3 separate regions of the Homo sapiens genome follow, and regions 1 and 3 are each linked to region 2. The links come from fine-mapping of genetic effects on gene expression. A gene starts in region 2. Each other region holds a variant in brackets. All regions are shown on one strand. Distances are between the middles of the regions.

Region 1 (8,185 bases), 980 kb before region 2:
TTAATCATTGAGGATGAAGAAGATTTGAGTGTTTATGAGCCTCTCCTACATGGGCATTTAACTTAGTTACTTAGGTTTTGTTGTTTGAGAAAGAACCCCATGTGAAAATCTGGTTTCTACAAGCCTTTTTGTTGTTGTTGTTGTTGTTCTCTTGGTCCCAAGGAAGTGTTCCTAATATCAGCAGCAACAAAAAAATTACTACCCCTTCTTCTCTCTTCCTTGATACCTAAGCTCTGATGCTGCACCCTCAAATAAGCAGAATTGGGCCTCTGGACAGCAGAGGACCACCCAACCAGGTAGAAGCAACACATTTCACAGTCTCCAGATCATGGGGATGAAGATCTCCAAGAATAGATATGTCATTTCATTCATCACTCACTCCCATATTAGCCCACATTATCAAGATCTGGAAGACCAAAGATGGATTTTGAATCTAAGAAAAGAACAGTCCTACTCAAAACTCTCTTGGGACAACTGATACCATCCACACAGAGACAGAAAATATCTTGATGTGCTTGGCACTTTAGGAAGTTGAGTATCACAGAATTTGAGGGCAGTTAAAAGAACTGTAAAAATCCACTTGATCTCTTCATAAAAGTGTTTAGGAAAAAAAAATCCACTTGAAAATTGACAAAGGTCTATAAAGGGAACATAAGTTGGAATGGAGAAGAGGGGCCGAGATCCAGAACCATGGCATAATCAGAATGGACCCTGATGCAATCTACTTTGATTCCACCACCACCATCACAGAAGGCTCAAAATATATATGAGATATTTGGATCCTAATAACCTTGGCATGCCATACTGCAGTTAATGATCTGAAGAAATAAATAAGAGACCCTTTGTTTTGGAAAAAAAATAAAATCTCTGGCCAGGCGTGGTGGCTCATGCCTGTAATCCCAGCATTTTGGGAGGCCAAGGCAGGCGGATCACCTGAGGTCAGGAGTTCTCAACCAGCCTGACCAACATGGAGAAATCCCATCTCTACTAAAAATACAAAATTAGCCAGGCGTGGTGGCTCATGCCTGTAATCCCAGCTACTCGGGAGGCTGAAGCAGGAGAATCGCTTGAACCTGGGAGGCAGAGGCTGTGGTGAGCCAAGATCACTCCATTGCACCCAGTCTGGGCAACAAGATTGAAACTCTGTCTCAAAAAAAAACAAAAAAGAAAAAGAAAAAGAAATCTCTAAACTAGGTAGGGTAAATTTGGCAATTACAGTAAGTTATTTTGATATGTTTACTGTATTGGTACCATATAAATTTGTTTTACATCTGTTTAATGATTAGAGATTAGGAAGGTGGAACTTAACTATTACTCTGCTAGATGCTGAATGTACAATGGAGGATAACTCAGAAAACATTTAAGTTCTCTGACCTTATCTTCTTATAGAAGATATAAGCCAAAATATGTAAACTTACAAGTAAATAATTTTAAATGATAATAAAGGTTTTTGGATCTTACCTGCTTCATTGTCATTTGGACCAAAAGTCATGTTTGCCCTCCACCACAATAATATAGTAATGTTTTTAAGAAGATTCAACAAAAAATACATTTTATTTAATCATGTAATACTTGCTAATAATATGGCAATTATCTTAATACATTAGCCTAATATTTGCTACCCCATGTCTTATAAAATATTAGAACCTGAGTATAAATGGTTCCATGATCCCATGAGCAGGAGAAATGCCATATTCTAAATCACCTTCTTGGTGCTCTGAGTAGTGTCTCCATCAAAGAAGAATCTGTTTTACTTTAACATCTCAAAAATAATATCACTAGGAGAGAAGAATGCTTTATATAACATAGTTATCAACACCAACCAAAAAGAATAGACTCTTCCACCAACTGTTGAAGCACCATCAGTTCTGGAAACACTCAGTTCCATAGAAGAACCTCCTAGACCAAAGGCTCAATGCAATGCCCATAGCTTTATCTATTTTCAACAAGCAGTCTGGGAATTGGTCTCTCAAAGTTCCACTTCAGTTGTGTCTTGATAGAACTTTCACTGAATCTTACATCACATAGAAGTATATCAGGAGCTCAACTCAGCACAGAGCTTCAGTTTTACAGCAAGAAAGACATGCATGTGAATGCCACAGAAATTGATTTCCCTCACAGTCTCATTAATTCTGTACCTATATTTTGGCATTTATAACAATCTGGTTTTGACTGTTATTATTTTTATCATAATAGCAGAATCATAATAGTTGCCAATTATTAAGTGCTTATTATCTGCTTGGGACATTACTAGATGCTATTTTATATTATCCGAAATTCTTAAATTTCAAAGAAGTTTTGAAGGAATTACATAAGCATATGAATGATCCTATGGAAAGGCATTGATACATTCTTAGAACTATTGAAGAGAACATAAAAGTATGCTAAAATACCCCCAGCAATGAAAAATCCAAATAAGTACCAAACGAAATCAGATAAAACCTGAGAAGGAAGATGCAGATTTGGACAACAGGGAATTCTTGGTCAATGTGCAATTTGAATCAGAAGAGCATAGGCTATGAGAGCACCCTATCTGGATGCCAATCCCAACTGTCATCTTGACTGTGTACTCATGAGTGTATGTGTGTGTGTGTGTGTGTGTGTGTGTAAGATGTAAAATTTGGCATGTTAGATCATCAAATAAATCAGCCTTGAGAAACAAAAATAAAATCCTAAGCCTCCCAACTGACTAAGTGGACCCGCTCTTGGCCAAGGGGGCCCCAGAGAAACCTCAAAACTGAGTTCCTAGCATTACAGAATGAGAGGTTGGAAGTGCCTTGTTATACTCCCTCCCTCACTAACCACCTTTAGGCTTTCTTCCCTCAGGGTTAAACAGAAACCAGCCCTTTTGAAAGACTTGCTCTCCAATGATTTCAACCAACCTTGTGACTACTCCTCCCTTTTGCCTTTGAACACAACAGTAGACCGACGTTCCTTCCTGATAAAAGGCCACCTACCAGCCGGGGTCGCGGTGGCTCATGCCAGTAATCCCAGCATTTTGAGAGGCTGAGGTGGGTGGATCACGAGGTCAGGAGATCAAGATCATCTTGGCCAACATGGTGAAATCCCATCTCTACTAAAAATACAAAAAAATTAGTTGGGCATGGTGGTGCACACCTGTAGTCCCAGCCACTCGGGAGACTGAGGCAAGAGAATTGCTTGAACCCGGGAGGCAGAGGTTGCAGTGTGCTGAGATCATGCCACTGCACTCCAGTCTGGCAACAGACCCAGACTCCATCTCAAAAAAAAAAAAAGCCACCAACCACAAAGTGGTTCTGGCCAGTCAACAGAGGATGCACAGTGATGACTTTCATGTCCTCCACTTCACCTTTTAATGTCAGAAGGCTGAAAACTTCAGCCTTCCATCATGTTAACACTGCCATTTTTTGAACAACCCAGGGCATGAAGCTCAATTGTGTATGTGCACATTTCTCCTTTCACAAATATTCATGACTCCTCCTATAGCTTATTCAACATGTATATTCAGCCACGCCATTCAGCATAAATTCCTGCCTTATTCTTCTC[A/G]CCCTCCAAATATCTGTATTTCTGGCTTCTGGCTGGAGACTGTGTTTCCAAGTATGTCAGAATGGCTGCCTTGCAGACTGAACCGCTTTATGGAAAGAAAGCTCTCCTTTCCAAATATATGAATTTCATCATTCTTCAGTTCACAGTCTTACAGTTTATATTAACTAATATAACTAATTAATTTATTTAGACATGATTTTAAGTTACAAAGTGTAATGGAATTTGGTTAGGTTTCTAAACAGCATTGAAATGCTTAAGAAAACATAAGAATCAAAAGATGTATAAATTTTCTTCGAGTATGTATTTGGAATTGTATTAGTCAGTGGGAGACTTAAAGTACTCTAAAATTGAGGATATCAACTTGGTAACCTCAGTTTAAGTTGTTAAGAGAGTTTAACCGAAGTTGTTAACTGGATCAATTATTACTCCAAAGCTCCTTGAAAAAATTACACAAATTTCTAGAATTTTAATTAAATTAATAACATTAGTTATCTAACTTATGGCTCACAAAAAGCTGTATAATTGGTAACTTTAATAAAGTAAATATAAATTTTGTAAACCAAAGTGTGCCTTAAATCATCTTTGTGATACACAAAAGCCAACTTCAAGGACACAAAAACAGCGTATGGCAATGAAAAATGAACAGAAAACAAAAGCTTTATGAGTTGCAAAGAGCAGGCAGAAAAGGTAGACCTGGGTTTAGGAATCAACTCCAGAAGACTACTGGGCAAGAGGACAAGAGAGAGGAAAGGAGGGAAGAAGAAAAGGTGGAAGAAGGGCTTGATAGAGAGATAAGAGAGGTATTCCATGGCTTCAAAAGAAAATACTTTTGATTTTAAAAATTAACCAGCATATGGTAAATCAGCTCAGGATCCCACAGACCCACATACCAGGCCCCTCACTTGCTTTTCTCCCACTCAAAGGTCCTACCTCCCTGCACCTCCCCACGGCTGCCCACCACCCTCTGAGAGCCACCTCTGCATATGGTGATTCAGGCCAGGACCCCACAAATCCACCTAAGTAAATCAGCACTGGCTGGTCAGTGACTCAGAGAGGTGGCCAACAAGTGAGGAAGAACAGGGTATCATGGGCAACTGACACAGAAATTCTCAAAGACCTAGAAGATCCAGGATCCACGATCAGCTCATTCCACCCTCTTTGGCCTTGGCAGTGACATCACATGGGAGGGTCAATCCTCCCTCTTTTCACGGAAGAGTACTTTGCTTGGCAAGGCTGTTCTTGTCACTAGTGTTTATTTGTTCACACCTGCCTTAAATGCCAGTATGACTGAAATGTTGAAACTCTCTCATCTTCATTGGTTTAGCCTAAATTTTCCCAGGCAATTAGTTTCTCTGAATATGAGCAGGTAAACACCCTTCCTTCCTCCACCCTTTTCCCGGCCGTCCTGGGACTACTTGAAACACAGGTGTGTCTTACCACACACAAACACTAAAACTCAAAAAGAGAGTAAATAACAATTACAGCTACTATTGAGCTAATGGATTGCATATAAACATTCAAGATTCTTGGACTACAGGAGCCTTTACACCCACTCGCCTCCCCAGGAATGCTTCCCTGTATTCATTCATCAGACTGACATTTGAGAATTTGGGTTATACGGACTTGTGTGATCACACCATATACCCTTTCAGTACCTGAATCTCCACTGCACATGCCACCGCTTTTCCTCCACCCAGCCTACCACCACTCACCACTACGGACATTTCTTCAGCAGATAATTGCTCACTTTTTCCACTGGCTAGGGCTTGGGTATCATGCACCAAAATGCTGAAAGTTGACTGGAAACCCTGTGTATTCATCTCTGGTGAACAGCCACCTCTCAACTTCACAGCTGCCAACAGATGGTGGTCCCATCTCCCTGGCACAGATAGTGAAGTCTCTTTTTTTGCCCAGGTATGGTTCCATAAGCACAGTTTTCCCTACCAAATAATACAACAAAGCAAACACATCAACCAGTGAAATTAGTGGATGTCTAACATTACCCAAAGACCACAATTCCCCTCTTGAGCTCTGCCCAATGCTTCTGCCCTCCCCTCCCATGCCCCCCGAATCCCCAGCCCTGTACTCCAGCTATCAGTATCTACGTCTGTCCTTTGGCCATGTACTAAGGACTTGTTCAGACCTTCTTCTTTGGTTTACCAATTTCCTTTTACACTCAACTTTAATCCTCCATTGAAATTGGAGCGACCTACAGCTTCAGGTATCCAGCATCCTCCTGAATACATGAGACAAGTGACAGTCAAGCCATGTCCCATGAGAGGACCAGGAATTGGCTTCCACTCTACTTCACCTCTCACCTTCCAGGGTCTATCAACACTCCCTGACTGAAAAAACTATCCTTAAATTATAACTCTCATGCTCAGAAGACCAGGTCTACTTCTCCAGACTGTCCCATTTAGTTTTTTCTAATGAACCTTTTTATCTATCAATTCCACAGAGTTCTTTCCTGGTGGCACCTATCACAATACGTGGTCTGGTCTCATGCGGTTGACTTTTGCTGTAGCATTACAACATAAGTTCAAGTCTTCTATCACTAACCTACCACCTACCAGTCCTTGCACACATCCTTCCCCCACTCAAGAGTCCTGCCCCCAATGCACCTCATTGCACCTTTCCTTTGGCTGCCCCCACAGAGACCCCAGAGATACTGTGGGAAAGGGCTTCTGTGTCCTCTTTCTCCCAGGCTACCCTTCCTCAGGAGATGGAAACCTTGCTAGTCACTCAATACCTGCAAAACTGGAGTTTCCGGTACAAAAAAAGAGTTAGACACATCACATTAGTAACTGGAATGAGGCACCCAAAAAACGGAAAACTGGGGCAAACCCTTTTGTTTTCCAAAAGTTTGACTGTGCTTGGGATCAAAGGTACAAGATTACTTTTTATGCCACCTTAATCCTCTGAAGCAGGAAGTTGAAGAAGAGACAGCTACTGGGATTATCCCTAAAAGGAGAGAAGAGTTCCATTAGGGCTTGGGCTAGCCTTCATCTGGGCCGGAAGAAGATTGTATGGTTGGACTGACAGTGACCACTTTTTTCAAGGTGGGGTTTTAAAGAATTAGGATAGTTAAGTGCATAAATAGACAGGCGGACAAACATAATATAATTCTAGAATTAACTTTGGAACTCTTACAAGTCTTCAATATTAGAGATGAAGAAATAAAGTCATGGAGATACTGAGGAACTTCACTCAGACAGCACAGCTGGTTAATGTCAGTAAAGCTAGCATCCACATGTTCACATCCTATCTCACGTTCTTTCTACAACCCCAAGAGGGCTTACTTCACTTAAATTGAAGTCAAATCCCAGCTATTCAGAAACCACAAAGAACAGTCTTCAAATGAGGACACAGACCTGAGAATTTGAGTGAAGGCCTTGGGACAGAACATGGCTAACACTTCCAGAACCCCCAGGCTTGTGATATTCGATTACTCCCTGGCTGCTCTTTCAGAGCCTGTGGTTTGGACAATAAGAAAGAGTGAAGTTGTCCTACAGACAGAGGGAAATAAATATGGAGGTTGTCCTACAGAGAGAGGGAAATAAATAGAGGGAAATGATGGAGGCTCTAAAGGGAAGTCAAACAGAAAAAAAAATCTCAGATAAGAAAAGGAATCATGGGATCAGAAGCACATATTGAATGGAAATCTGCTCTAAAATACCTCCTGATGGTCTTTCAGCCTCTGCTTGAAGTCTGTCCACAATAGAGTGCTCTGTACAAGGGAGGCAACCAGATTTATTATTAATGAACTTACTTAGAAACTATTTCCTTGGTTGGACTGAAATGTGCTTCCCAGTGACTTCTGTTACTTTAGGAGAATTTTGCTCTGAACTACAGAGCGGTTCCCTCCTTGTCACTGGAGGTGTCAGAGCAGAGGCTAGAAGTCCTGAGTCAGTGATGCTCCAGGGAGTTCCTTCCATGGGGTTGGAGGTGGCAAGACTCAAGTCTCTCACTGGCTTCAAGAATCATTTATGCCTTGGTTCTTCCCCACCTAGGCCACTCTTCCACCTGCTCATGGACTCCTCGGGAAATTTTACAGATTCTTTCACACCATAAAGGATGGGGCAGGAAAGATTCACTCAGTAATTCAGAGGCATTCACATTTTTTACTTTGTTATAGTTTAATTTTTAGCAGATGGGCTCAGAAATTCATCTATGAGAAGGCCCTATGAAAGAGTCTATTTGAAATGTTATAGGGACATACATTTCTCTTATATGTTGACAAATGTTTGGCATAACCCATATGTAAGCCAACTATGAACAAAAGCTTTGATCAGACCTATTTCTTCCTCTTTGGTCACTCTTCCAAGAACTCCAATTTCATGATGTTGCTTTAGTAGAATTTAAAGAGCAGGCTAATACTGTGTAATTAATAGCATTTAGTTTTGTACCATCTCAGGATATTAATTACAAACAACAAAAGCTCACTCTGACTGATTAAACAGAAAAAGGGTTTATTAAAATATTATTGGGTAGATTATAGAACTCTTGGAAAAGCCGCAGAACCAGGCTTGAGGCTAAGCATATAGGGGAAATGTCCAAAAACCACACCACAAAACTAGCCTGGTGAGGAAGTTCTACTGCCACAGCGACTGCTCCACCATTGCTACATCATGCCAGGAACACATCTTTGCCTCCTCAGCCA
Region 2 (8,185 bases):
TTTCCTAGTACTTCTGTGAATTTTTTTATATCAGAATGAATTTGTGTAGTTAAAAATGATTACATTTTAAAAATCGCATATGTGACCAAATCAATGTTTTTTGTTTTTTCTGACTTTCGTATCCTTCTCTATCCTTTTTAGCTACCCTGCATGACATGGTCTTCAAAGATTCTTATGTTTGAGACTATCATACCATATTTCATTGATTCTTAGACACTCGTTTTTTATCTTTTAACATCTCTGCAATTGGGATTTATCTTATAATTGATGACATCTTACAAGTCCTCTCAGCCAGGCAGCAGTCAAGATATAGTTGTCACTGACTGCACATGTGAGAACATTAAGAGGGCCAGTAACAAAATTTGTAGAATAGGTGTTAGTAGTTGGAAAAAAATCTGGTGAAAAATAGCAGAGGACTCTTATTCCCTAGGAACCAAAAGGTTAAAGGGAGTGGGGGAAAAGTGATGACTCAGATGTACTAGGAAATTTTCCAAAGCTGGAAACAAAAATAGATTAGTTCTATCTAATTGCAAAGTCCACTTAAGAATAGGTTTTAGGTGGTTTTTAAAAATTCTTTTAATTTATTTATTATTATTGTTTTGTAGAGATGGAGTCTCACTGTGTTGCGCAGGCCAGGCAGGATGCAGTGAGCTACTGTCGTGCCATTGCACTACAACCTGTGCAACAAAGCAAGACCCTGTCTCTAAAAAAAGAGAAAATGCTGTCCGGGCACGGTGGCTCACACCTATAATCCCAGCACTTTGGGAGGCTGAGGCAGGTAGATCACCTGAGGTCGGGAGTTTGAGACCAGCCTGACCAACATGGAGAAACCCCCTTTCTACTAAAAATACAAAAATTAGCCAGGTGTGGTGGCAGTGCGCCTGTAATCCCAGCTACTCAAGAGGCTGAGCCAGGAGAATCGCTTGAACCTGGGAGACAGAGGTTACAGTGAGCCAAGATCACGCCACTGCACTCCAGCCTGGGCAACAAAAGCGAAACTCCGTCTCAAAAAAAAAAAAAAAAAGAAAGAAAGAAAGAAAAAATGAAAATCCTGCCTAATACTCTTCATTTTTATTTTATTTTATTTTATTTTATTTTGTTTTATTGAGATGGAGACTCCCTCTGTCGCCCCGCTGGAGTGCAGTGGCACAATCTTGGCTCACTGCAACCTGTGTCTCCCGGGTTCAAGCGATTCTCCTGCCTCAGCCTCCCTGAGTAGCTGGGACTACAGGTGTGCGCCACCACGCCCGGCTAATTTTTTTGTATTTTTAGTAGAGACGAGGTTTTACCATGTTGGCCAGGCTGGTCTCAAATTCCCCACCTCAGGTGATCCACCCACCTCGGCCTCCCAAAGTGGGGGGATTACAGGCGCGAGCCACCGCCCCCAGCCATAATTTTTTTTTTTTTTTTGTAGAGATAGGTCTCACTCTGTTACCCAGACTGTTCTTAAACTCCTGAGCTCAAGCAATCTTTCTGCCTCAGCCTCCCAAAGTGCTGGGATTAAAGGCGTGAGCCACTGCAGCCAGCTAGGAATCATTTATTCTCCCTTTGATCATTTGAAGCCAACACCATTTGTGTTAACTATCTATACAAAATACCAGATTATTCTACCCCAGAAGAAGTGATACATAGTGTTTTTGCTCTCAACATACCTATTTCTCGAGCAAGAATAATACTGCTGAGGCGTATCGGTTGCGTAGATTCAGCAATGAGTACAGCTTTTTGGGAACACAAGGTGCCATTTTCATATAAAGGCTCAACAGTAACTGCATCATGATGGGTGGAATGCCTGCCAGAACAAAATTCTTAAGAGTGTGAAATAGGTGGGTTAAAATTAACTTTTAGTGGAACATAGATTCTCACACTTCTTCCATGTTACATACTACCAGGTATATGTAAATGACACTTTTTAAAGAAGGAACATTGCTTAGGGATGCGATAATTAAACTGAGAGATTGATGAGAACTTTCCCAATGATCCCTTGAACAAAGTCCCAGAAATATCCCTCCCTCAATTTTTTTTAAAAGATTTTTATATTCTTCCCTCAGTATGCAGAAATACGACTGATGTGTTTCTAGTAATGAGAGGGGACTTTCTCATACTCTGAGGAAAGTTTCCTTCAATCCTAGAAACCAGGCTTCTGATATCTAGGATGGAAAAGGTGCCTAAATTATGAGGTGTGAGTCCAACTCAAAATACCAAAAACATTCATAAATATTTTTATTCTTATTTATTATTATGTTTTTGAGACCGAGTCACTTTGTTGCCCAAGCTGAAGTGCAGCAGGGCGATCTCAGCTCACTGCAACATTCGCCTCCAGGGTTCAAGCGATTCTCCTGCCTCAGCCTCTCGAGTAGCTGAGATTACAGGTGTCTGCCACTATGCCCGACTAATTTTTGTATTTTTAGTAGGGATGGGCTTTCATCATGTTGGCCAGGCTGGTCTTGAACTCCTGACTTCAAGTGATCTGCCTGCCCCGGCCTCCCAAAGTGCTGGGATTACAGGCGTGAGCCACTGCGCCCGGCCGAATGTTTTTATTTTAAATAGAGACGGGGTCTCACTATGTTGATCCGGCTGGTCTCAAACTCCTGGCCTCAAGTAATCCTCCTGCCTTGGCCTCCCAAAGTGCTGGGATTACAGGCGTGAGCCACCATGCCTGGCCTCATTAATATTTTTGGAGTGATAGAAGAAATGGCTTTCAATGCTGGAAAGATGCCTTGCATCACCCTCACGGTCAGGAAACACACACGTCACACTGGATCATCTTACAAGCTCACTTTCCTTATACTTCCTCATAAAATGAGAGGTGAATTTATACTCGGAACAAACCTCATTGCTTCTCCTAGGAGATGGCAAAGGGGTATCTACTCCATCTAGGATGAATGCACTGGCATCCTGAAGCTCACTTCGGTTAGGTTCTCTCATACCTTAGGCAACCACATAACCCATCATTGGGTCCTCTCACACCAGAAAATCATGTCTCTTCATCTTCAGTCAGGAAGTCATTATCCCGGAGTTGTGTGTACCCCCTGTCCTCACACTTCAAGCGGGTACCCTTTTATAAATGGGGCAATTTTGATAATACAGACAGATCTCATCTCCACCCACGATAAATCTTCTCATATTCCCAGAAGTTTACACTTCATAGTCTCTGGGCCTCACTTTCCTCGTCTGTGAAATGGGAGTAATAGTACTTACTTCATAAGACTGCAAAAAGCGAATGAGTTAACACATGTAAAGTGCTTAGTTAACCCCCAATACTTGGCTGTTGTGTTTTAAGTCCTTCTCACATTGAATAGCTCATCTATAGTTAGTGGGGACCCTCGCACCCCAAGTTTTCCTGTTCCTACAGAAATTTCCTCAGATATGGGGAACTTCCTCTTACTCTAGTTGTTTACATTGGAAGTCATCAGTACCTGTGGCCTCCAACACAGGGCTTCCCTTTACCCTGACGGCTGCTCATAGTGACCACCCCTTCCCAACACACACAGAGAAGAGGCCAGTCCCACATCCCGAGAATTCCTCACACGTCTGGAAGATTGTCACACAGCTGGAGGATATACCACATGAGTAGGACACGCCACACCCAAGGGTCTGCTCCTCGCCACCTTCACTGACACCACACTCTCCTCCCCTACCGGCTAGGCCCCTTCACGCGGCCCCACACGGTATTCCTGTGGGATCTTACAGAGGGAACCCCCCTCACCCTTACTGGATGGTAGTGAGGGTGCATATCCTTGTCACCCACCACCCCTCACCAAGTGTAGCAGCCCCGCTGGGCCTCCAGCAGGAAAGGCACCCGGCCTGGCTCTCGGCCGAAGGGTAGCAACACCTGTGGCACGTTAAGTTTGTTGGCCAGGGTCCCACGCAAAACCAGAAACAACAACAGGAGGCGGTGTAGACGCAAGAAGAAAAAGAGCCCGAAGCCTCGGCGTCTTGATGACGCCGGACAGCCAGTCATGGCGACTGCCAGGTCTCGGGTTCCCGCTCAACTACAGCCGGCTCACAGCTCCATCAGCCAATCCACAGGCGTGACGTCAGCAGAGGGGGATGGGACCTGCTTCTTGCTCGGATGTGTGGGCATTTTTAAATGCAGTCCTTCAGCAAGCCAATATAATGGAAACTTTTGGCACAAACCCAGCTAAAACACCTCAAACTCTCTTAAAGGGCTTTCCTAAATACTGGATGGCAGACCTTTTTAACAGTAAGGAACAAGCAGAAAAGTCTAAAAAAAACCCTTTAATTTCTTCCAGTTTTAATTTCTTCTGTTGCACACTGTTTATCTTAACACCACACCCTCCGCCCGACAAAAAAACTTTTTGCAATGATTTCCAGTTAGCATTGGTCCATGCCTATCAACGGAAAATTGTGCAGTCTCTGGGATAAACAGCTCGACTTTGTCAAGGGAACCGTGTATTTTTACTAGAAGTCAGATTCACGTCCGGCCTCCAGGCCAGAATGCAGGAAATGCCAGACACTGGCGTCTCAAAAGCAGCTTTCAAAGTTATCCACTCACACAGCCGGCCTCTAAGCAAATACTCTTGAGAGCACTTGTTGTTTTCTCCAAATATCCAAACAGAATATAAACTCAAAGCTGTTTCAGTACAGTTGGTTAAAACCACGCATTTATAGTAGTGATCAGCATTATATATTGTTTTAAGGAGCATAAATCCATAGTTTATAAGGATTGATATGGTTGTGAAGGAAAATGTATATAGTTCAGCCTGAGATGTCAGTGTTAACCTATAAAAGGCCCAGCACATTAAGTGTTCTTTCTAATCTTCATGTTTACTCTGACAATACTTATCTCCATTTTACAGATGATAAAACTAAACATTTGCTCTATATTAAATCCTGTTGCTCCAGCTGGGTGCGGTGGCTCACGCCCGTAATCCCAGCATTTTGGGAAGCTGAGGCAGGTGGATCACCTGAAGGTCAGGAGTTCGAGACCAGCCTGGCCAACATGGTGAAGCCCTGTCTCTACTTAAAATATAAAAAATTACCCGGGCATGGTGGCAGGTGCCTGTAATCCCAGCTACTCGGGAGGCTGAGGCAGGAGAATCTCTTGAACCAGGAGGCGGAGGTTGCAGTGAGCCGAGATCGAGCCATTACGCTCCAGCCCAGGCAACAAGAATGAAACTTCATCTCAAAAATAATAATAATAAAGAATAAATCCTGTTGCTACCACCCACAAAGATGCTATTTTTAACCCAAACCTCATAGCTTCTGTGGAGAAAGCACATTTAGTTTTAATAAATAAAAGTCAAATAGGTCTGAGGGTTGGAGGGACTGGTTCTTTATTTCAAAAAGACACTTGTCAATATTCAGTATCAAAACAGTTGCACTATTGATTTCTCTTTCTCCCAATCGGCCCCAAAGAGACCACATAAAAGGAGAGTACATTTTAAGCCAATAAGCTGCAGGATGTACACCTAACAGACCTCCTAGAAACCTTACCAGAAAATGGGGACTGGGTAGGGAAGGAAACTTAAAAGATCAACAAACTGCCAGCCCACGGACTGCAGAGGCTGTCACAGCCAGATGGGGTGGCCAGGGTGCCACAAACCCAAAGCAAAGTTTCAAAATAATATAAAATTTAAAAAGTTTTGTACATAAGCTATTCAAGATTTCTCCAGCACTGACTGATACAAAGCACAATTGAGATGGCACTTCTAGAGACAGCAGCTTCAAACCCAGAAAAGGGTAATGAGATGAGTTTCACATGGCTAAATCAGTGGCAAAAACACAGTCTTCTTTCTTTCTTTCTTTCAAGGAGGCAGGAAAGCAATTAAGTGGTCACCTCAACATAAGGGGGACATGATCCATTCTGTAAGCAGTTGTGAGGGGGTAGAGATGGGACAAAATTTTGGTCTCAGAGGTCTTACCATCTTAATTTGGTAACTTCTAATGAAAAAAATAAAAAATAGAAATAACATTATCCAAAGATATCTTAAAGCTGAAAACTTGAACAGCACATTTTTTGTTTTTGTTGTTGTTTGGCTAACTCCTCCTGGAATCACCTTTCTGGTTTAGCTAGTACTTTGTACAGAACAATGAGGTTTCCCACAGCGGAGTCTCCCTGGGCTCTGTTTGGCTCTCGGTAAGGCAGGCCTACACCTTTTCCTCTCCTCTATGGAGAGGGGAATATGCATTAAGGTGAAAAGTCACCTTCCAAAAGTGAGAAAGGGATTCGATTGCTGCTTCAGGACTGTGGAATTATTTGGAATGTTTTACAAATGGTTGCTACAAAACAACAAAAAAGGTAATTACAAAATGTGTACATCACAACATGCTTTTTAAAGACATTATGCATTGTGCTCACATTCCCTTAAATGTTGTTTCCAAAGGTGCTCAGCCTCTAGCCCAGCTGGATTCTCCGGGAAGAGGCAGAGACAGTTTGGCGAAAAAGACACAGGGAAGGAGGGGGTGGTGAAAGGAGAAAGCAGCCTTCCAGTTAAAGATCAGCCCTCAGTTAAAGGTCAGCTTCCCGCAGGCTGGCCTCAGGCGGAGTCTGGGTCAGAGGGAGGAGCAGCAGCAGGGTGGGACTGGGGCGTTCTACATCTCATTCAGGTCAAGCAGGGTCTGGTCCAGCATCCTTTGTGTACAGAGGTGCTCCTCTTTGGTGCATTTCAGTTTATCTAATGGGGGTAAAGGAGAGAAGTTACAAGAACTAGAAGTAAATTTCAAGGTCTACCCGCTCTTTGAGACTTGCTCCTGTTGCAGAGAAGCTGCAGACTGATAAAGCAGCTGCCTTCTCAGCCACAGAAGTGAGCTATTACATCACCCAGTTTTGTAGGGCCTTTGGCTTGCCTACTGAAGTTGTAGGTGTTGCTGCACTTCCTGGGTGAGGGAGTTAGGGCCCTTATCAGCCATTTCCTCTCCCTCCCACACCCAACCAACACTTTCAGCTTTCAGTCAATGAAAGAGCAAGCCTTAACCATCAGCCATCCACTTTTCTAGGTTTTGCCCACATAACAATACCCTCTTGAAATGGCTCACCGGAGTTTGAACATTGCAAACAATAGAAACATCAGAATCTCAGATTATAAAGAGCACAGGAAGATCCTCATGCACTACATGTTTTTTCGAAAAAGTAGAGGCCAAAGTAATAACTGATGGGATAAATAAAAGGGCGCTCACAGTTAAGTCAAATAATCTCTAAAGAAAACAAAGCCAAGAATACTACTGAAACAAGTAGTTGTAAGCAAACCTTGAGATTGCTGCAGAGCTATTGAACAGAACTAGCTTGTGACAGTTACTTGAAATTAACATAAAACCAGAAAAAGGACGCAAAAGTCAGAAAGAAAATCAGCAGCTGAACATTAAGGAGAATCTAATCTGTCTAGCAAGCAAACCACTCTGACTGCTCTAAAGAGGTGAGGAAAATACTCAAATCTTCAACTCAGAGAAGGTGATGGCAACACAGACCCATATTCATATCCCACAACTTTTCTTTCACTTCCCTTTTTTCCACCCAGTCAGAAGGACCCATTCCTGGGCCTGCCGATGAAGCAGTTACAACAACTTGTCAAGTCAGTCCTTTTATTGTTAAAAACATCCATGCAAGGGAACATATCCTACAGTCAGTGCCCAAGTGAAAGAGCAGCAAATAAGGGTGGAAAACAAAATTCTCGCAAGTTTTCTCACTATAATCTCTCAGGCCCCTCCCTTCTTCACCCATAATCTCTTCTAAAGGGACAGAAACTTCACAATGGTCAACTTCACAATGCTGTTAGGAAATCAACATTCTAACTGCCCCAATTAAAATGCAATTTGCTCAGGGCAAAATAATAACTTTTAAAAAGACAATCAGCTTTTTGTTGGGGTCCAGGTCAGTGGTGTGAGCAGTAAGCTCAGTTTAATGGGCATCATTGAGCCCTGCCCATCAGTCACACAGATCATGCAGCGTTAGCTTCAGCTCATTAGAAAGCAGGCGGTTTCGCTCAAGTTGGCTGTAGAGACGCTCTGCAGCAGCAACGGAGAGGAGGGGAACACAAGAGAAGGAGAGGAAAAAGAGGAGGAGAAAGAGAAAAAGGGAAAGTTAGTAGAGTACCAGAAGTAAATTATGAGTCTTTCAACTAGCTGGTATATATAACATGCATCTGTAAGGCAGGGTGGATGCAAGGAGGATTCAGATAGAGGGCAATAAGAGTCAGTCAGTTGGTGGAAAGACCAACAGAGGAAA
Region 3 (8,185 bases), 510 kb before region 2:
ATGCAGTTCTAACCTGATAATTGTGTGTTAATCGGGAGTAACAGGACAGGCCGTTACGGTTGGTTACACCTACTTATGCTAGATGCATAATGTTTGGAGCCTTCCCCACTGATGAGAAGCAATTTATGATCTTGTGCTAGAAAGTTAATAATGCTTCACAGCATCTTTTTGAGAGGTTGATTAGAAAACACACACATACACGTTGGTAGTCACTTGTGGGTGAAGCCTGAAGGGGCTATACAATTTATTTTCTTTCAGATTGACTGATGGCTTTATGGACAGCCAGGCTTACTAGGAGCTTGGTTGTGTTCAGGGCTATTGCTGTCCCTTTTTCCTTTGAAGGAATTTAATTCTCTGAGATGTAGTCTTAATGGTTTTCTTTTGAGAACAGATTCTTAAAAATACCCTATCTCTGTAGTGTGTCCTTGTTCTTATATATGGCCCTGAGTTTTGTGATCACCTGAATAATTCTAACATACGTTTGGCTGGCTGACTGTGGAGATACATTTGAGTTACATGTTTATTTTTAATTTAAGGTCATCATTGTTTTAAAGGAGCTGTTTGCAAGTGCAGGCATGGAATTAGGGATTTTTAAGAAATGTAAGGAAAGGAGATTTGACTTTCTTGTGTTTATTTACATCTTAAGGTAAAAAGTGGACCGTCTGGAAATAGATTCTCAGAGGAAAAATGGAGCACACGGGCCTTTTTGAGAAATCAATCTTGTTCTTAAGTCACAAGAACTCAAGTGAACTTGTAATTTAAGTTTTGCCCAGAGTGTGATGAACTTCCTATGGTGTTTGAGTAAGCCTTTGAAGACAGTGGTAGTCCATGGGCAGGTATGAATCAAGTCATATAATTGTCAACCTGTAGTTCAAAAGCAGTACAATCCAGGATTGAACTATAGAATGTTCTTACGAAAACTTAAGTTTCAACTGGCAGTGTATGACTTCTGTAGCCAAACTAGTGAGGTAATTTGTGGAGATGCCCATTTCATGGGACCACACTTGAGCTTCTTGGAGTTTCTGCTCTGGATCAAAATTCTGCTGCTTGTATAACATGTTCTGAGGCAAAGGCTTGCTTCTGGTTTGGGATCCTTTTGACACCCACAACAGGTTTATCTCCCTTCACACCAGCATCTCACTTGCTTCTTTTTCTCTGCACTTTGAGTTGCCAAATCCTGTTGGATTGCTTTTTTGATCTCAATCCCCTAACACCTTTTCTTCCAGAAGAGCTTAAAGCAGCGCCTGGGTAAGAGTAACATCCAGGCACGGTTAGGCCGACCCATAGGGGCCCTGGCCAGGGGAGCAATCGGAGGACGAGGCCTACCCATAATCCAGAGAGGCTTGCCCAGAGGAGGACTACGTGGGGGACGTGCCACCAGAACCCTACTTAGGGGCGGGATGTCACTCCGAGGTCAGTGCTGTGTACCCTGATAATTGTCGGGCCCTACTCCCTTCCCTTTTCTCTTGGGCTGCTTATGGACACGTTTGTTTAACATCTTTAAGCCTGAATTTGTATTAATATAATAACTTCTGAAATCACATATTTTTAATAGTGCTGCATGTCTTTTATCAATACCATTCCTTTTCTGATAATGTGCAATGGTGAGAGGCTATGACCTGCGTAACAACAGGTAATTCATGTCATCTCCATTCCATTTTAAAACACCCTGCTGTTGCTTGAATCAAAGCACATTCAAGTTCTAGAAACAAGTCAAACATAAGAAATTTATAGGTCTTTTGGCCTATATCTCTTTGTTCCTGGTGCTAGTAAAACACTGATACAGCTGGAAAAAGAGGACAAGTTGACCCACAGCACTTACCTATATATGTTCATTTGGGGCACTATTACTCTGTTCCCTGTATAGTTCTTGTTCCCTAGAAGAATCTGTTGAGATCAGGAACCATAGCATTTATTTTTAAATTTACCATAATGCTAGGCATCTATCTGATTATTCAGTAGATATTTATTAAATGTATGTACTTACTAATTGAATTAACTCCCAACTTCCAAAAATGGATTTGTGGTCAGACTTGTTGAATTGATTGAATAAAGAGTAGCTTAATCTGTTCACAGTATGCAGCTTGCCCCAGCCAACCTAAAAACTAACTGAATTACCTTCATTTAACCCTCACCGCCTTCCTTTGGTTAGAATCTACTTTGTGTCTCTTGGATTTACCTGCATATACATTGTATGCCTCCTCTCTAAGGTCAAAACCTGCTCCGAGGTGGACGAGCCGTAGCTCCCCGAATGGGCTTAAGAAGAGGTGGTGTTCGAGGTCGTGGAGGTCCTGGGAGAGGGGGCCTAGGGCGTGGAGCTATGGGTCGTGGCGGAATCGGTGGTAGAGGTTAGTCAGCTACCAACTTCAGAGAGTAGCTCCCCCTTACTTTCCTCCCTTAAAAACTCAGAGCCACCTTTCTGCACAGCTTCAAGTCATAGGCAGGCTTCTTTGTTTGTCTTGTTTTGTTATTTGAAACTGGCTTATTTTTCAAATTACCATGCTGGTAGTGCAAAAGTCTCATGATTTTTCCAAGAATCAATCAAGTGCATATTATAGAGCCAGATTATATGCCATCTTCCTCCAAGCTCTTGCAAATTTAAATTGTATAGTTGAAAATACCCCCCAAAATGGTCAGTTTAGGGTTTTGCCTTTCTCTGCCCCTGTCCCACCACCATCACCACCACATACCACCCTGTAGCTCCAAATCCTGGTTTGAGTCACATGAGAATATAGAAGAGAGAGAGAGATACAAAGATGAAGTAGAGTTAAGAGGGTGGTGAGACTTGGAGCTGGGCATTGGCTCTGAAACCAAATAAATTCAATGTCACATTTGGTGCCTGTGGAGAACCAGAGATGACTTTTTTTGCTTAAGGTAGAGAGCAAGATGGAATTATTATCAGTTAACTAACTGGCTCTTATTGATAATCTTGCCTTTGAAATTTATTGATGTTTGTCTTGTGACCTCATGACCCAGATTGGGAAAGAGTTTAATGATGTTGCTGCTGTTAATACTAAATCTCATGGGAGCCTTCTGGTTTAGAGCTTAGTGGAAAACTCCCAACACCTGTCCAGAAAAAAAACACTATTGAAGCCCCTGTGTATATTTGCTTTGGTTCTCTTAAAAGGTGTCTTGGGTCTTCCATAACTTATGACCTTGAAGTTGCCAAGGAATAATAACTGTTAGGAAAGAAAAGTTGATAACCAAGGGCTTGTTTTCTTCTCTCCCATTATATGATACTTACTGAGTGAAGTGCAAGCTAGTTTGGGTTTCAGGATGAAATAACATGTTTCCAAATTATCTTGACTTGGATCCTGAGAGACATCACGAGGGTGGGAGAGACTAAAATAGCTTTTCAAAAAGCTGAGTTTGTTTTGTTAACTGAATTCACACTGCTTCTCAGATAACCACAATTGTCAGTTGTCATAAGGTAACTAGAATTAAAGGTAGAAATAGCTAGGACAACTCAAAATATTTTTTCAAATCTCCCCTACATTGTTCCTGTGTCAGAAAAACTCAGTCTCCTGACACATGAGGTCAGCTAGCTCATTAGACTTGATAAGTTTAAGGACAGGTGAGATGACTTTCCAGAAGGGTCTCCAATAAACTTAATTTGAAAACTGTCTTGTCTTCACACCCCTGATGCTCTGTGCTCTTGTTACCACCTCCCTATCTTACCAAATGGGGTTATCTGTCATGTATTTTAATTATGAACTTAGTGAATCTCAAATGTTAGGTAATTTTATCTTAGGATTGATTAAGGTTTTTTAAAATTATAGTTGCCAGTTAATTATTTTCCTTTATTGATAGAATAAAATTTGTTAAAATAGCATTTAGAGATGATCATGTGATAGAGGATTCATTATGTGTGCTTTCCATGTGTTGCTTTCTACCCATTGTGTTTCCTTTTTTTCCAGATTTCTCCTCTTTGCCCTGCCCTTCAGCTTTTCTCAGCTAGGCCCCACTGCTCTAAGGGGCATTTACTACAGCACCTATTAAACTTACTTGTAACTGTCTCTTTTTTTTTTTTTT[T/C]CCCCTTTGGGCCAGGTCGGGGTATGATAGGTCGGGGAAGAGGGGGCTTTGGAGGCCGAGGCCGAGGCCGTGGACGAGGGAGAGGTGCCCTTGCTCGCCCTGTATTGACCAAGGAGCAGCTGGACAACCAATTGGATGCATATATGTCGAAAACAAAAGGACACCTGGATGCTGAGTTGGATGCCTACATGGCGCAGACAGATCCCGAAACCAATGATTGAAGCCTGCCCATCCTCCCATGAGAGACTCTTGTTAGTCAACACATCTGTAAATAACCTTGAGATAACAGATGAGAAGAAATCTGATTGATGCTGGATGGACCTATCACAATAGGCTGTGGACTTACTTGCCACCAGCTTGTGCATTTAGTGTGTTCCTTTTACTTTTTGATACTGTGTTGTATGAAACCCTTTTGTCCTTTGATTTGGTTTTTTGTTTTTGTTTTTTTAGGGGGGAGGGGGGGTTTCCCCTCCTTTGCCCAGACTTCTCTTTGAACACAAATGCATTAGCCTTGTGGCTAGAACACCCTCTTCCTACCTCTGTCTCCCCTCACTTGTCATATGCTCTGACATGCTAACATTTCTTTTGTTCATCCCTGTTGCCCCCACAGAAACATCCCAGAAAAACCGGTCAGTGTTCCTTCCTCCCTGATCCTTAGGTTTCTGAAATAGGGTTCTGTTACATCCTCTTCGATAGCCTGTTTAAAATGTTTAGAAGGTCTGGAGCTCAAAAATGCGTTCTTCCACATTGATAATTTAGTAAACTGAGAACATTGACATCACTACAGGGCAGCATAAGAGGTTGCTTACATGTGGTAGCAGCTCTGGTTTGATTCAAGTTGCTACCATGTACATTGACAGCACATATACCATAACCAGCGTGTTGGGTTGAATTGCACTTTCTACCTTTGTATGAGATTTACAGACTTTCCTTCTGGGTTTGTATCATGACCAGAGGGGTACTATAGGGTTGGTTTATACTGCAATATAGAGGATCAGAAGCCATTTGATTTGGTAGGTGTGTCAGAAGGGAGAATGATGGCAGACGAACTGCTGGAAGAGGTCAGAAGATAGCCATGCTAAAATGCAATTATATCCTCATGTTTATCCCAAACTAATCTTGGACTTTTCCACTCATTAGCTTTGTTTTGCCCTTGTTTCCCTTGAAGGTTTAAGTTCAACCATATTCTGTCAACTGTTCAGTTTCAGTGGAATCTTGTATTTCTGGTTCATTATAACAAACTGTTCGCTTAAATCCACCCAGGACTCTCTTTATTTGAGGTGCCTCAAAATGCCATGGCTACTTTAATGATGTTTTTTTTTTTTTTTCTTGTGACCGAGTCTCGCTCCTGTCACCAGGCTGGAGTGCAGTGGCGCGATCTTGGCTCTGCAACCTCCAACTCTCTGGTTCAAGCGATTCTCCTGCCTCAGCCTCCCGGGTGGCTGTGACTACAGACATGTGCCACCACACCCAGCTAATTTTTGTATTTTTAGTAGAGATGGGGTTTCACCATGTTGGCCAGGATGGTCTTGATCTCTTGACTTGGTGATCCACCCGCTTCAGCCTCCCAAAATGCAGGGATTACAGGCGTGACCCACTTTCAGCCTCCCAAAGTGCAGGGATTACAGGCGTGACCCACTGCACCCAGCCACTTTAATGATGTCTTGATATACCCCTTGTATGGTTGAGAGTTTCTTTCTTCTTACTTGTGTTAAAATTCTGGAGAGCCTGTGGCTTTGAGCAGAAAGTGAAGAATTTGACTTCCTCTGAGCTCTGCAGAAATAACACCACGCCCACAAAAACTCAAGGAAGATTGTCTTGGGCAACATTCTGGGCCCTTGGGCCCTGGCACATATTTCCCTTTTTCCCTATGTTGAGAGCTGAAGAGAAAAGAACCTAGTAGCGCCCAGCCAAGCCAGTTGTCATTGGGCTGCCTTTCACCCTAAACTGCCAGGAGGTTGTACTTACTGGGGGCTGGGAAGGAAATTTTGGTCAGGACAACCCAAACTTGAATCCTGTGATGTGGGGTGTCTGTAGGTCCCAAGGGAGATGGGCAGTGGGGGTCTAGCAGAAGGCTACAGGTTGGACGGTGACTGCAGAACTGAATCCCCAGTTCAGCTCCTTCTGCCTTTTCCAGTGCTAAAGCATGAGGACTTCCCCTCCCAGCCAACCTCCCCAACAACCCAAACAAGTGCAAAATGCCAGGCTCCCTCCTACCCCAGAGGAGACTGATGCTTAAGAGTTCTCTATAAAGGAGGTGACTGCCGTAGCCTAGGCTTCCTTCCTTCTACCTCCATGTCCTTCCTACTTCATTGAAAGAATTTATCCCCAAATCGCTTATGTGGGGCACAGGGAACTCTCCTATCAGCCAAGGGTCCTCCAGCCCCACCTACTGCTCACTACAGTTCCCAGGGTCTCCTGAGGCCTGTGTCCCTGTCATCCTCAGTCACTGGTCGTGTGGGACAAGGTGAGTAAACCTGACCTCCTCTGGGTCAGCCTTTCATTCAGCTGCCATGTGCTGAGGGCTTGCCATACCAACACAAGGCATCCTTTGTAAGGGTAACATTAGGAGCATAGGGAAGAGGTTGATGAGCTGGATCTTTTAAGACAAGGGAAAGTAGAGAAAATACACCAAGCAGAGGGAACCAAGTGTAAAGGTACAGTGCTAAAAGAACACCTGAGGCTGGGCACAGTGGCTTACGCCTGTAATCCCAGCACTTTGGGAGGCCGAGGCGGGTAGATCACCTGAGGTCGGGAGTTTGAGACCAGCCTGACCAACATGGAGAAACCCCGTATCTACTAAAAATATGAAATAAGCTGGGCGTGGTGGCACATGCCTGTAATCCCAGCTACTCGGGAGGCTGAGACAGAAGAATCACTTGAACCCGGGAGGCGGAGGTTGCAGTGAGCCGAGATGGCGCCATTGCACTCCAGCCTGGGCAACAAGAGTGAAACTCCATCTCGAAAAAAAAAAGGTGGTCCTGCTGCTATGAATAGATAGCTCCATGGACCCAGCAGGGGTTAGGGTAGAGGCTCCCACTTATGCCTCGGTGGGCTCTCCCACCTGCGTCACACCCTGGCTAGTGACCCAGTCAGACGTGCTGGGGACCCTGGCTGACCACCTGTACCAGGGGCAAGGAAGGAAGGAGAGGGGAGCATTGTGAAGCAGGGCAGGATGACTCTTGAAGGTGGAGACAGGCCCTGGACAGCTCTGGGACCCTTAATGGTGGCAGCAGCCCCCAGTCATAGGCCTCATTGTGTGGGCAGCCTGGGACAGCTAAGATCCCCATGAGGTCTCTTTAAAGGATTCACTAAATGCTCCATTTAGTCTTGGTTTGTTTTTTTGTTTTGTTTTGTTTTTTGAGATGGAGTCTCGCTCTGTTGCCTGGCTGGAATGCAGTGGTGCAATCTTGGCTCACTGAAAACTCCAACTCCCTGGTTCAAGCAATTCTGCCTCAGCCTCCTGAGTAGCTGGGATTACAGGCATGCGCCACCACACCCAGCTAATTTTTGTATTTTTAGTAGAGACGAGGTTTCACCATGTTGGCTAGGATGGTATCGATCTCCTGACCTCGTGATCCATCTGCTTCGGCCTCCCAAAGTGCCGGGATTACAGGCGTGAGCCACCACGCCTGGCGATTTTGTTTCTTACCCTTTAGTGTAAGGTGATTATCAGCTGAAGATTTAAACACATCCATGAGGAGATGGGGGAAGGGGTTCCTTCAGAAAGTCCTAAAGCTTTCCTCTGGAATTTTTTTTTTTTTTTTGGAACAGAGTTTCACTCTTATTCCCCAGGCTGGAGTGCAATGGCACGATCTGGGCTCACCACAACCTCCACCTCCCAGGTTCAAGGGATTCTTCTGCCTCAGCCTCCCGAGTAGCTGGGATTACAGGCATGCACCACCACGCCCGGCTAATTTTGTATTTTTAGTAGTGATAGGGTTTCTCCATGTTGGTCAGGCTCGTCTCGAACTCCTGACCTCAGGTGATCTGCTCGCCTCGGCCTCCCAAAGTGCTGGGATTACAGGCATGAGCCACCGCACCCAGCATCCCCTTTGGATTTTAATTCAAAGCACATACTCTCAGGAGTTTAATTTCAAGAGGAAAGCCAGTTCAGACAACAGAGAAGAGAAAGGAGGTGGGGGAAAGGTAG

The links.
Region 1: its variant is fine-mapped to the expression of NUP210L in minor salivary gland (GTEx, PIP 0.95).
Region 3: its variant is fine-mapped to the expression of NUP210L in whole blood (INTERVAL, PIP above 0.99).

Annotation. Positions count from the first base shown.
Region 1 is chr1:153,166,324-153,174,508 of GRCh38, forward strand. It overlaps a transcript of SPRR2G not described here. Among named protein-coding and RNA genes, the nearest start is that of SPRR2G, 20 kb to the left of the region's middle. The variant A/G (reference allele first, on the strand shown) is at 3,526.
Region 2 is chr1:154,151,084-154,159,268 of GRCh38, forward strand. NUP210L (nucleoporin 210 like) reads right to left here and starts at 3,990. Exons shown (of 40, transcript NM_207308.3): 1 at 3,759-3,990; 2 at 1,653-1,789. The coding sequence starts at 3,961. It also overlaps a transcript of TPM3 not described here. RefSeq lists enhancers at 3,323-3,823, 3,824-4,324 and a silencer at 4,931-5,108.
Region 3 is chr1:153,641,017-153,649,201 of GRCh38, forward strand. CHTOP (chromatin target of PRMT1) reads left to right here. Exons shown (of 6, transcript NM_015607.4): 4 at 1,230-1,413; 5 at 2,211-2,348; 6 at 4,048-5,290. The coding sequence ends at 4,253. Among named protein-coding and RNA genes, the nearest start is that of CHTOP, 11 kb to the left of the region's middle. The variant T/C (reference allele first, on the strand shown) is at 4,033.